Homo sapiens: one gene and its partners. The protein of the gene in region 1 purifies or fractionates together with the protein of each later gene. This does not show direct contact. Each region holds a gene or a part of one and is shown on either strand. Other genes may lie near its edges. The genes, in order: ARL4C, RGS12 and FBXO33.

Region 1 (3,748 bases):
ATCCACTGGTGTGTTCCCTCCTCCTGGACTGCAGTCCTTGATCCAGGGTGCGTGCTCCAGGCTTTGGTTAGAGTTACTGGGAAAGAGTTGTACCTTTTCCTTTCCAGGATCTAAACCAAGGATGTGAGTCCAAGGCTGCCAGAAGGAAAAAGAATCAACACAGGGGAACACGGAGGAGGACTGGAGAGACACCTGCTCGAAAGACTCCTTTTGAGCTCCTGGGTCTAGCCATGCCTGAAGAGGACCTTTATCCTTAACTTTTCAGTGATGTCAGTGAATACATTTCCATTTTTATTTAAAATGAAGTAAGTGGCACAGTGCAGCCAATATTTTCTGTTGAACTCTATCCTTCGGGTGGCTCACTTTATTCCTCATTGAAGGAAATAGCGTGTGGGTAGAGTGGGATGTGAGGAAGAGGGCAGGCAGGTGCCCAGTTTTGTGCATACAGACCCTTGGTCCTGGAGCAGGCAGTGGGCCTCTAGGTTCTGCCTTAGCCGTCACGGGCGCCTAGGCCTTGTTACCTCACTGGACAACGTTGGGTGGAATGATAGGCAGGGTCCTTTCCAGCCTGATACTTCGTTTCCAGCCCCAAATCCACTCAGTAGAGTGGATGGTCGCTCCGGCTGCCACCTTGGGAATTCCAAGGATAGGGGTGGTGGTGGCTTGTCCTTCCTTCTACAGGTGAGGTCTTCTCACATGCTTTGGTACCAACGATATCATATGTCTTTTCGTGGTTTGTGAACAGAAGGTGATAAAGTATTTCTCTAAAATTCTAGCTTTTATTCATAAATTCTTAGCATTTTCATTTTCTTCTCCCTTGACCCCGTTTCCGTCGTTTCTGTCTCATAAGCTAGAGCTGGGAAGATGCGGTCGCCCATGCTGCGGCCTGCTGTCTCCTGCGGAGCAGCTCTCCCCAGATCTGTGTGTTTGCCATAATATACTCTCACTTTTCTCCGCACCCAGAGAGGATATACATTTGTTACATGTTTACAAACCAGAATAAAACCATTGAACTGAGGTGACAGGAGGTGGAACCCGTGGAATATCAGTGTTTGTAACCCACTGCGCCACCAGCTCCAAGCTGTAGACACATTTTCTTTCAGCCCCCGGGGCTGGTGTTGCCATTTCTGCGGAGTAGTTCACCTGCGGGCAGGTGGTTCTCAGTTCCCAAAGTCGGGTGGCAAGGGGTGCTCTCCCGAAATGCTGACGCTTCCCCTGGGATGTCAGCAGAGTCGATGCGGACGAAATGAGGTAGCCCAGGCGTGTCTGGGAGGGTGAGCTGTCCGAGCTACTTGGGGCAGGTAGGTCTTCTAATCCCCCATCGCGGCCTAGGTCCGACCCTGCCCCAACCGCCGCCACCGGGCAAGAAAGGCTGGGCCTCCAGGGTGCCCTGGGCACAGGCCTGGGCTCCGGAGGGCGGCGCTGGCCGGGTGCAGCCCCCTGGAACCCAGGCAGGAGGCGAGCCTGGGCGTCACTGGGGGCCGGGGCCGGCGACAGCCGCGGCGCGAGGGTGGGAGGGGACGCGCCCGGCTGGATCCAGAGCGCAGGCTGGCAGCTCACCGAGGCCAGCCCCGTCCCGTCCCTTCTGGGGTTTGGAGGCCCCAGCCTCGCCGCCCTCACTCCCCAGAGCGGCGCTCTCCCAGTCACCCTGGGGGCCGCCCTGCCCCGCCTCGCGCCCACAGAGCTGGGACCCCGGGACCCACTCCCTCAGGCAGGCTGCGTCGCCCACGGCTGCGGCCCGGAGGGGCAGGGGGCGGGCTAGGACCCGGGCGGGGATTCCGGGAGCCGAGAGCTATTTTTGCAAACGCGTCAGCCGCTGGGGAGGAAGAGCCGGCTCCGCGCCCATTGTGTCTGCGCGGCGCGGCGCGGGAGGGGCCGGGGGGCGGCGGGGGGCGGCGGGGACGCAGCGAAGCGCGCGAAAACGGCCGGCTGGGCGGGGAGGACCGCGCCTGACCCCCGGCGGCGGGCGGGGCGGGGCCCGGGGCGGGTCCGGGGGCGGGTCCGGGGCGGGGCGCGAGGGGGCGGGTCCGGGAGCTCTCCGGCCGCTGCAGGCTGGCGGCTGCTGCGGCGGCGCGGGGACTGTGAGGCTGCCGAGCGGACAGCGACTCCCGGGGAAGCCCGCGCTCCGGGAGCGGGAGCGGGAGCAGGAGCAGGAGCAGCGCCGTCCCAGGCCAGAGGCGAGCGCCGGGCGCCGGGAGAGCGGAGAGCCCGGGCAGCTGCCGGAGCGCGGGGGCGCGGCCCGAGGAAACCACAGAGCGAGCCCAGGCCTGGGGAGGGCGCCGAACATCTGAGGCGGCTTCGCGGGAGACAAAGCCGCGCGTAGAGACGCGATGCCCGCCGATCGCGAGCCCGGCCGGCGAGGGCGCGGGGACTGCGGCGTCTGAGCGCGCCAAGCCGTGCGCCCGCGGGGACGCCGAGCCCCGGGGCCGGTGCGGGCGGCGGCGGGCGGGGCCCAGGTGCGCCCGGCCGCGTCGGGCCCGTGACTGCTCGGGGGGCGGCGCCCTCCCGCCGCAGCCGCAGTGGCTGGCGCCGCAGCCAGGAGCCATGGGCAACATCTCCTCTAACATCTCGGCCTTCCAGTCCCTGCATATCGTCATGTTGGGCTTGGACTCGGCCGGCAAGACCACGGTGCTCTACCGGCTCAAGTTCAACGAGTTCGTGAACACGGTGCCCACCATCGGCTTCAACACCGAGAAGATCAAGCTGAGCAACGGCACGGCCAAGGGCATCAGCTGCCACTTCTGGGACGTGGGCGGCCAGGAGAAGCTGCGGCCGCTGTGGAAGTCCTACAGCCGCTGCACGGACGGCATCATCTACGTGGTGGACTCGGTGGACGTGGACCGGCTGGAGGAGGCCAAGACGGAGCTGCACAAGGTGACCAAGTTCGCCGAGAACCAGGGCACGCCGCTGCTGGTCATCGCCAACAAGCAGGACCTGCCCAAGTCGCTGCCGGTGGCAGAGATTGAGAAGCAGCTGGCGCTGCACGAGCTTATCCCGGCCACCACCTATCACGTCCAGCCGGCGTGCGCCATCATCGGCGAGGGCCTCACCGAGGGCATGGACAAGCTCTATGAGATGATCCTGAAACGCAGGAAGTCCCTCAAGCAGAAGAAGAAGCGGTAATGCGCCCGGAGCGACCGGGGAGCGAGCGAGTGCGTCAAGAAAGAATGAATGGATGGATGGATGGTTGGATGGATGGATGGATGGATGAGCGAGAACCCGCGCCCGCGAACAAAGAGCGAACCAAAGCGATGCTTCGAATTTTTAAAACGGAATCTCTGCACCCAAATGCAGGACTGGTGACTTAAGGAGCTGCGAAGTCTGATTTACCGGCCTACTCTCGACCTGCCCCCCACCCCCAGCTCAGGGGACCTTTTGTCTGAACGCCAGAGCTACTGACCAGGTCGGGGGGCCGCGGTGGGGAGTGGAAGAGCCGGTCCTGCTGTCCGCCCTCCCAGCCCCAGGTGGAAGGCTCAGTTGTCGGAAAGACAAAAGCGATTTCTTCCCACTCCTGCAGGGCCAGAAGTTCAGGCTGCCCCGCCTCCACTGGGGGATCGCACCTGTGAATTACCTGAGGTATGCATTTCCCAGAACCGTGGGCGTACCCACCTTGGGGGGCATGTTGGTTCTGGGGGGACCACCTCTCCTTGCATTCAGGGGCTGTGAAGCTGAGTAATTTTCGGTCACAGGGCAGGCCCCTGTTGAAATTTCATTTGTCCTGCTCTGGGCCCAAAGGTGGTGGTGGTTT
Region 2 (3,748 bases), on another chromosome or scaffold:
GTTTATTTGCCCTAGTTGGGCTGAAACTGGTGTCATCGTCAGCTGGCCAAGCTCCCTCCCGAGGCACTGGAGGAGAACTGTTGGCCCGCCCCAGTCAGCTTCTGGAGGCTGGAGGAGAGCCGTTCACCCCCCTGGTCAGCTTCTGGGGGCTGGAGGAAAACTGCCCCCCTGGTCAGCTTCTGGGGGCTGGCCTCATTCCTTGGCTCCCGGCTCCTGCCCTGCCTCCATTGTCACATCGCTGTCTTTCTCCTCCTCTTTATTTTCTCCTTTTAGAGACAGGGTCTCACTTTGTTGCCCAGGTGGAGTGCGGTGGCACAATCATAGCTCACTACAGCCTTGAACTCCTGGCTCAAGCCATCCTCCTGCCTCAGCCTCTTGAGTAGCTGGGACCCCAGGCATGTGCCACCATGCCCAGCTAATTTTTTCTGTTTTTTTTTTTTGGTAGAGATGGGGTCTCACTATGTTGCCCAGGCTGATCTTGAACTCTTAGCCTCAAGTGATCCTCCTGCCTTAGCTTCTCAAAGGGTTGGGATTGCAGGCACGAGCCACCGCGCCTAGCTTCTGTCTTCTTCTGCCATGTTCAAATTTCCAGGATAATCTCCTTGTCCTGGGAGCCTTAGTTTACTCACATCTGCAGATCCGTATTGCCGTATGGCTTTCACAGTCCCAGGGATTAGGGCCTGGATATCTTTGGGGATCGCTATTCAGCCTACAGCAGGCTCCTCACTTGTCTTCGAAATGACTTCACTTTTCCCATTGTGTGCGAGGAGCACCCGTCTCATGCCTCTTCTCTGGGATGGGCAGGGTTTGTCCAGGGAAGGTCCCTGTGGTTTCACTTCCCTGCCCTTGGGGAGAGGCGGGAGCCATCCTGGAAACAGGTGTCCTGGGAAGGAAGACAAGCCTTGCTCAGGATGCAAGCCCCAGTCATGAGAGGTTGTGGGAGGTCACTCATGCTGTGCCTTTTTAGGAGGTGGGGTCGTTACCAGTTCCAAACTGGATACTCCACACAGTGCTCATGCAGTTTTACCTGTGGTTTTGGGGGCCACCGTTGCAGAAGTTGCCTAGATTCTTCCATGAAGGAGCCTCTTGCCTCGGGCTCCGGGCAAGGAACTCTTGTGTTAGAAGTTCCCTTCTTCTGTGTCTTTTAAGGTCTGGACTTCAGTGAAAGAGAAAAGAAACATCTAGTTTGTTCTTTCTGTTTTTCTTTTCTTTCTGCTTTTCCATGCACTTGCTGTCCCCAACTCTGTAATCATGGTGATACCCGATACGCATACACACTCTACTCACATATCTTTTCCTACATCTTTGTGTCCCTTAGCAGTGATCTTAGTTGTCCTTCCAGCATGCCTGAAAAAGGGCTGAGTCTGTGGATTGAAGCGTCCAGTTGTAGGCATTCTCCTGCCCTGCCTGGCCGCAGCCCCCAGAGGCGGGATCCTAAGTGGTCTGTTTTCTCAGGCATTTACTGCTGTTGAAGCTGCTCCTTTAAAGCTTAAGACATTCTTTTTTTATTTCTCCCAAAGGCCGTGGGGAGGTTTAGCTCTCCTCTGTCCCACCAGCCTCCCTGTCCCTCTATGTGCCATCATAATCACTGCATTTTTGGTGAAATCGACAGTCCTTGCTCTTGTGTGACTGTAAGCATTGCTCATTACTGCGCCAAGGAGTGCCCTGAGCACAGGTCCTCTCGCACAGCCCTGTGGATTAGCATCTTCTAGTCACCCACCTATCAAAATGGTTTGTTTTTCATTGCATCCAGGACACTAGCCCCATCCCCACCCCTTTGGGATTGGAGCCTTCTCCCTGCTCTCGTTTGCCCTGGTCTCCAGGAGACCTGCTGCGCCGCTGTCACCTGCATTTCCCGCTGCTGTCCTCCATCTGTGGGGCTCCCTGTGCACTGGGTCCTGCTCTTCTCTCTCTGCTTGGCTCACTCCTCGTTTTGCTGAAGTCCTACTCTTTTGATACCTAAGAAACATCACATAGGTATTTTTTTTGGTCCTTGATTTAGAAAACATCTTTATTTTACTCTCCAATTACCTTTTAACTTAGCTGGGTATAAAATTTTAGACAATGATTTTTTCGGAATTTTGAAAATGTTGCTTCATTGCATTTGGTTTCTGTGCTGTTGAGGTCTGACGCCATTCTGATTTCAGTTCTTCTGTGTGTGATCTCTCCTGCCTCAAGCTCATAGAAGCGGCTCTTTTCCCTCAGTGTTCTGAGAAGCCCGATAATGGCATCTGCTTCCGTTTATTGTGCTGGGCACTCCGTGGGCCCTTTCAGTCTGAGGATAGAAGTTTTTAAATTTCAAAGATAATTTTCTTTCAGTTTTGCTGTTTTCTCTTTCTGGAACTTTTATTTGGAGGTTGGACCTCCTAGGTTGATCCTCTAATTCTCTTTTTTCTCATCTTGTTGATCTCTTTGATGTTTGTTCAATTTTTTTTTTAAGAGACGGAGTCTCACTCTTTTGCCCAGGCTGGAGTGCAGTGGTGCAGTCATAGCTCGCTGCAGCCCCAAACTCCTGGGCTCAAGCGATCCCCCTGCCTCAACCTCCTGAGTAGCTGGGAACACAAGCATGCACCCCCACAACTGGCAATTTTTACTTTTCATTTTATTTTTTCATAGTCTCGTCATGTTGCCCCTTTGCTGTTTCTAAGAAGTCAGTCACTCTGGTAGCTGCGTTGCTCCTTTATGTTATATGATGAGGTGCTTTCAAGCTCCTCCTGGGATTTTTGGCTTCCAGCAGTTTGATTGTGATGTTCTTAGGAGGGTTTGCTTTGTATTTGTCCTGCTCAGGGTTTGTTGAACTTCTTGGATATGTAATTTTTCACCATCTTCAAACTGCTATTAAGTTTCGTGCATTTTAAAATTTCAGTTACAGTAGTTTTTATTTCTAGAATTTTCACTTATTTTTTATGGTTGCCATTTCTCTGCTCTGTCATTTGTTTATTGTGATCATACTGTCATTAAATCTTTGAACACATACTAGCGGCTTTAATGTTCTTTTCTGCTAATTTCAACACCTGCATTACCTCAGGATCAATTTCTATTGGCTTCTTCCAACTATGGGCCACATCTTCCTGTTTCTTTGAACATCTAGTGTTATTTGATGGTGTACTGGACATTGTAGATGGTAACTGTAGTGACTTCTTTTTTCTGAAGAGTGTTGATTTTTGTTCTGGAAGTTAATTTGTCTGGACTCAAATGAAAATCTCTGCTGCAGTCTCTGCTTGGTGCTGTTGACCTTCCGGCTGCCTCCTTCTGCTGGACTCTGGGGTCTCTCTGTGCATGGATGGCTCACCACTGGCCAGGACCTAGGCAGAATTTACTAACAGATCTCACGACTGCCTCTTCCCCAGTGACCTCCTTTCTGAGATATGCCCCTCACTGTTCAGCCACCCAGCCCTCCCCAAGCCCTATCTTGGACTCTTCAAGCTGGGAGGATCACAACTTCTACCTGTGCTCTAGCCATTTTTAGAAACACTTGTTTTAGTTGGTGCAGCTCTCTCCTTTCAGGGGACAACTCCCCTCCACTTTCTGCCTGCTTTTCATAGCTCTCCAGGACCTCCCAGAGTTGGTTTTTGTGTCTTGTGTCTGGTTGGAACTTGATTTAGCAGCGTGGGAGGATGTGGGAACTGTCAATTTACGGACAGAGCTGCCGGCACTTTGATTAGTAGCCAGGCATTGGTCTTTGGCAGTTTGCTTGTTTTTCTCATAGAGCGTTCAAGTGATCAGGGAGCTAGCACTCCAGTTAAAA
Region 3 (3,748 bases), on another chromosome or scaffold:
ATGGTAACTCGTATAACTCAATAGCAAAATAACAAATTTAACCTAATTTTAAAACAAGCAAAAGACTAATAGACATTTCTCCAAAGAAGACATACAAATGGCCTCCAGGCATATGGCAAGATGCTGAGTTTCATTAATCATGGAAATGCAGATCAAAACCACAGTGAGATATCAACTCACATCTTAGCATGTCTATTATCAAAAATAAATTTAAGGTCAGGCATGGTGGCTCACGCCTGTAATTCCAACACTTTGGGAGGCTGAGATGGGCAGATTGGTTGAGTCCAGGAGTTCAAGACCAGCCTGGCCAACATGCTGAAACCCTGTCTCTACTAAAAAATACAAAAAAAGTTAGCCAGGCATGGTGGCGCACACCTGTAGTCCCAGCTGCTCAGGAGGCTGAGGTGAGAGAATCGCCTGAGCCTGGGAAGTTGAGGCTGCAGTGAGCCTAGATGGTGCCCTGCACTCCAGCCTTGGCAACGAGAGTGAGACCGTCTCTAAATAAATAGACATTTGTGAGGATGTAGAAAAATTGGAGCTTTTATACAACTGTTTGTGGGAATGTAAAATGGTGCAGCCACTATGGAAAGCAGTATGGAGATTCATCAAAAATAGCACTGCCGTATGATCCAATAATGGAATATTTCTGGATATGTATACAAAAAGAGTGTAATCAGGATCTCAAAGATATCTGCACACCCATGTTCACTGCACCATTATTCACATTAGCCAATATAAGGAAACAACCCAAATGTCCATCAAAAGATGCATAAAGAAAATGTGATATAGACATGCAATGGAATAATATTAAGCCTTTAAAAAAGAGAGAAATCCTACTATATTCAACAAACTGGATGAACCCACAGGACATTATGCTACATGAAATAAGCCAGTCACAGAAGGACAAATACTACATGACTCCACTTATGTGAGGTATCTAAAATAGTCAAACTCCCAGAAGCAGAGAATAAAATGGTGATTGCTGGGGCTGTAAGGAGGGAAAAATGGAAAACTGTTAATCAATGAGTATAAAATTTCTGTTCTGCAAGATGAAAAATTTCTAGAGATCTGTTGTAAAGCATAGTACCTATTAGGATTGTGTGAGTCTGTTGATCAATTTGGGGAGAATTGACATGTTAACAGTATTGAAACTTCCAACCAACAGACATGGCATTCCATTTACTTAGATCTTGTTTGATTTATTTCAACAATGTTTTGTAGTTTTCAGTGTATAGGACTGATACTTCTGTTCAGTTTATTCCTAAATATCTTGTATTTTTGATACTACTGTAAAAAGTTGTTTTTTAAATTTTAATTTCCAAATGTTCATTGCTAGCATGTAGAAATACAATTGATTTTTATATATTGACCTTGTATCCTGTGACCTTACTAAACTTGCTAACTTTACTGAACTCATAGTTATAGTAGCTTTTTTTAGATTCCTTAGAATTTTTGTGTAAATGATCATGTAATTGGCAAATAAGGACACTTCTGCTTCTTTCTTTCCAATCCATATTCTTTTTATGGATGAATAGTTTTATGGAGTATAGTTTTAATAGCTGATTTAAGTTCTTTCCCTAAATCCTTCATCTGCCATTTCTGAGTATATTTCTGTTGATGGATTTTTCTCCTAGTTGTGAGCCGTGTTACCTTACCACTGTGTGGACTCTACTGCTTTCCAGCGGTTCTCTCTTCAGACTTGTAGTTTTGCCCAACACATGTACAAATCATTACTCAGCCAAAAACCTGGGTAATATGAAGTCTTTGCAAATCTGTGAAGCTCTTTCTGTACAGTTTGTCTCTGGTACTCTGCCCTAAAATTCTAGACTGCAAACTCCCCAAAATCTCTTGTCTCCTCGATTCAGGGAGACTACCAGGCTATGTTGTAACCTGAAAACTCTCTCCAGACCATAATCGGAGGCAATTTATAATACACACCTCATTTTTTCCCCATCTTTCAGGATCACAGTCCTATATTGCTTATTGTCCAATGTCTGAAAACAATTATTTTGTTTTCTCTAGTTTTATAGTTGTTTACAGAGGGAAGGCCGTTGTCCTTAGTGTTTCTTTGTAGAAGAAGTAAAAGTCTCTTACATGTGTATTTTAATACCACCAAATAAATGAAAGTTGAGTTGAAAGGAGAAAAATACTGAGACTGTATGACTGTCCCCTCTGAGTATTATTAGAAATTGTGTGACATATTTTTTCTACTTTATATAATACCTTATATTCTCCAAAGCCAAATATCCATTCTTTTAGAAGCCTTTAATTTTTTTTATTTTTCTTTTTAAGAAAACTTATGGAAAACAAATTAACGTCTTTATAATTTATGGATATGGTAGCAACTTTAGAATAAAGAAAGGATAAAAACCTTAAAAGCAGACATACTTATATATGTTAGTAATGTATTCTTTGGAGTCTAATATGGAAGCCATTCTCACAAGAACAGTTTTATATCCTTTCTGTAACAGAAAAAAATACGGTTTTTTTGTTCGATGTCTCCTTGAAATGTTTTTTAAAATACAGTTTAGAATCACATGTCAAGTTGATTAGATTTACCAGAGTGACTAAAACTTTTTAAAGGTCAAGAAAAATTAGATTATTTCCATTAGTAATTCCTGTGATGTTTTCCTTGACATGTTCTACATTGGCTGTTTTATAACCTTTTCCTATTTACTACTTGGATTCTTCATATTTTTCTTATGTGGGGTGATTTTATATATGAATTTTTTAAAATGTAGCATTTGTTACACATTTTTCTCACAATGTTGGTTTGCCCTTTTTAGTGAGGTATGCTGTTGGATATCAAGTTTTTCATTTTTATATAGTCAAAAATGTATCACTTCCTAATTTATTGCTATTCTAAGATTAGGAAGACTTGACTATCTTAAAAGCACCTCAGGTTCAACATGTGCAAAATAGTGCTCATTGTTTACTTCACCACCATGCCTCCACACCCCCCCAAAAAATTCCCTGATTTTCATTTCTAATATTCCCTATCCCAGTAAGAAAGAAACTGTACCATGTTAACACAACCCAGAAAATTTAGGAGTTATTCTTGCCTACTGTCCCCTCACCCCCTATAGCTAATCCAGCACCTATTCCTGTCCATTTTACCTCTGATATGTAGCTTGAGGCTGTCCATTTTCTCTACATTGACCAACAAAACTCCAGTTCAAGGTGCCAGTATCTCTCATCTCTATTACTAAAATACTTTCTTAACTCATCTCCCCACTTTGGTTCTGGCATCCTTCCAGACTCTTCTAATGCCACAGTAACATTTTCTAGACAGAAATTTAATCATTTTATTCCTTTTTTTTTTTTTTTTTTGAGACAGAATCACACGCAATGGCGTGATCTCGGCTCACTGCAACCTCCCATCTCCCAGGTTCACGCGATTCTCCTGCCTTAGCCTCCCAAGTAGCTGGAATTACAGGAGCACACCACCACACCTGGCTAATTTTTTGTATTTTTATTAGACATGGGGTTTCACTATGTTGGCCGGACTGGTCTCGAACTCCTGACCTCGTGATCCACCCACCTCAGCCTCCCAAAGTGCTGGGATTACAGGTGTGAGCCACCGCGCCCAGCCTATTCTTTTCTTAAAATGATTGTTGAGCAGCTTACAAAATTTTTTCTTTGACATAGAACCCTGTCTACCTCTACGTCATCATTTCATGTTCACTTACTCTCTGTACTCCAGTCACTCTGGATTCTTTTCAGCTCGCTTTGATCTCTTCAAGTGCTG

What was found.
Region 2: the proteins of ARL4C (region 1) and RGS12 purify together in Homo sapiens (co-immunoprecipitation; 3 studies listed by BioGRID and IntAct, with this or other methods). This does not show direct contact.
Region 3: the proteins of ARL4C (region 1) and FBXO33 purify together in Homo sapiens (co-immunoprecipitation; 3 studies listed by BioGRID and IntAct, with this or other methods). This does not show direct contact.

Annotation. Positions count from the first base shown.
Region 1 is NC_000002.12:234,495,383-234,499,130, reverse strand, and holds the start of ARL4C (ADP-ribosylation factor-like protein 4C), read left to right. Parts: upstream 1-2,049; 5' UTR 2,050-2,544; coding exon 2,545-3,119; coding exon of another isoform or gene 3,120-3,123; exon of another isoform or gene 3,124-3,294; coding exon 3,295-3,325; 3' UTR 3,326-3,748. UniProt on the Homo sapiens protein: Small GTP-binding protein which cycles between an inactive GDP-bound and an active GTP-bound form, and the rate of cycling is regulated by guanine nucleotide exchange factors (GEF) and GTPase-activating proteins (GAP).
Region 2 is NC_000004.12:3,295,930-3,299,677, forward strand, and holds part of RGS12 (regulator of G-protein signaling 12), read left to right. Parts: intron 1-3,748. UniProt on the Homo sapiens protein: Regulates G protein-coupled receptor signaling cascades. Inhibits signal transduction by increasing the GTPase activity of G protein alpha subunits, thereby driving them into their inactive GDP-bound form.
Region 3 is NC_000014.9:39,404,711-39,408,458, reverse strand, and holds part of FBXO33 (F-box only protein 33), read left to right. Parts: intron 1-3,748. UniProt on the Homo sapiens protein: Substrate recognition component of a SCF (SKP1-CUL1-F-box protein) E3 ubiquitin-protein ligase complex which mediates the ubiquitination and subsequent proteasomal degradation of target proteins. Probably recognizes and binds to phosphorylated target proteins.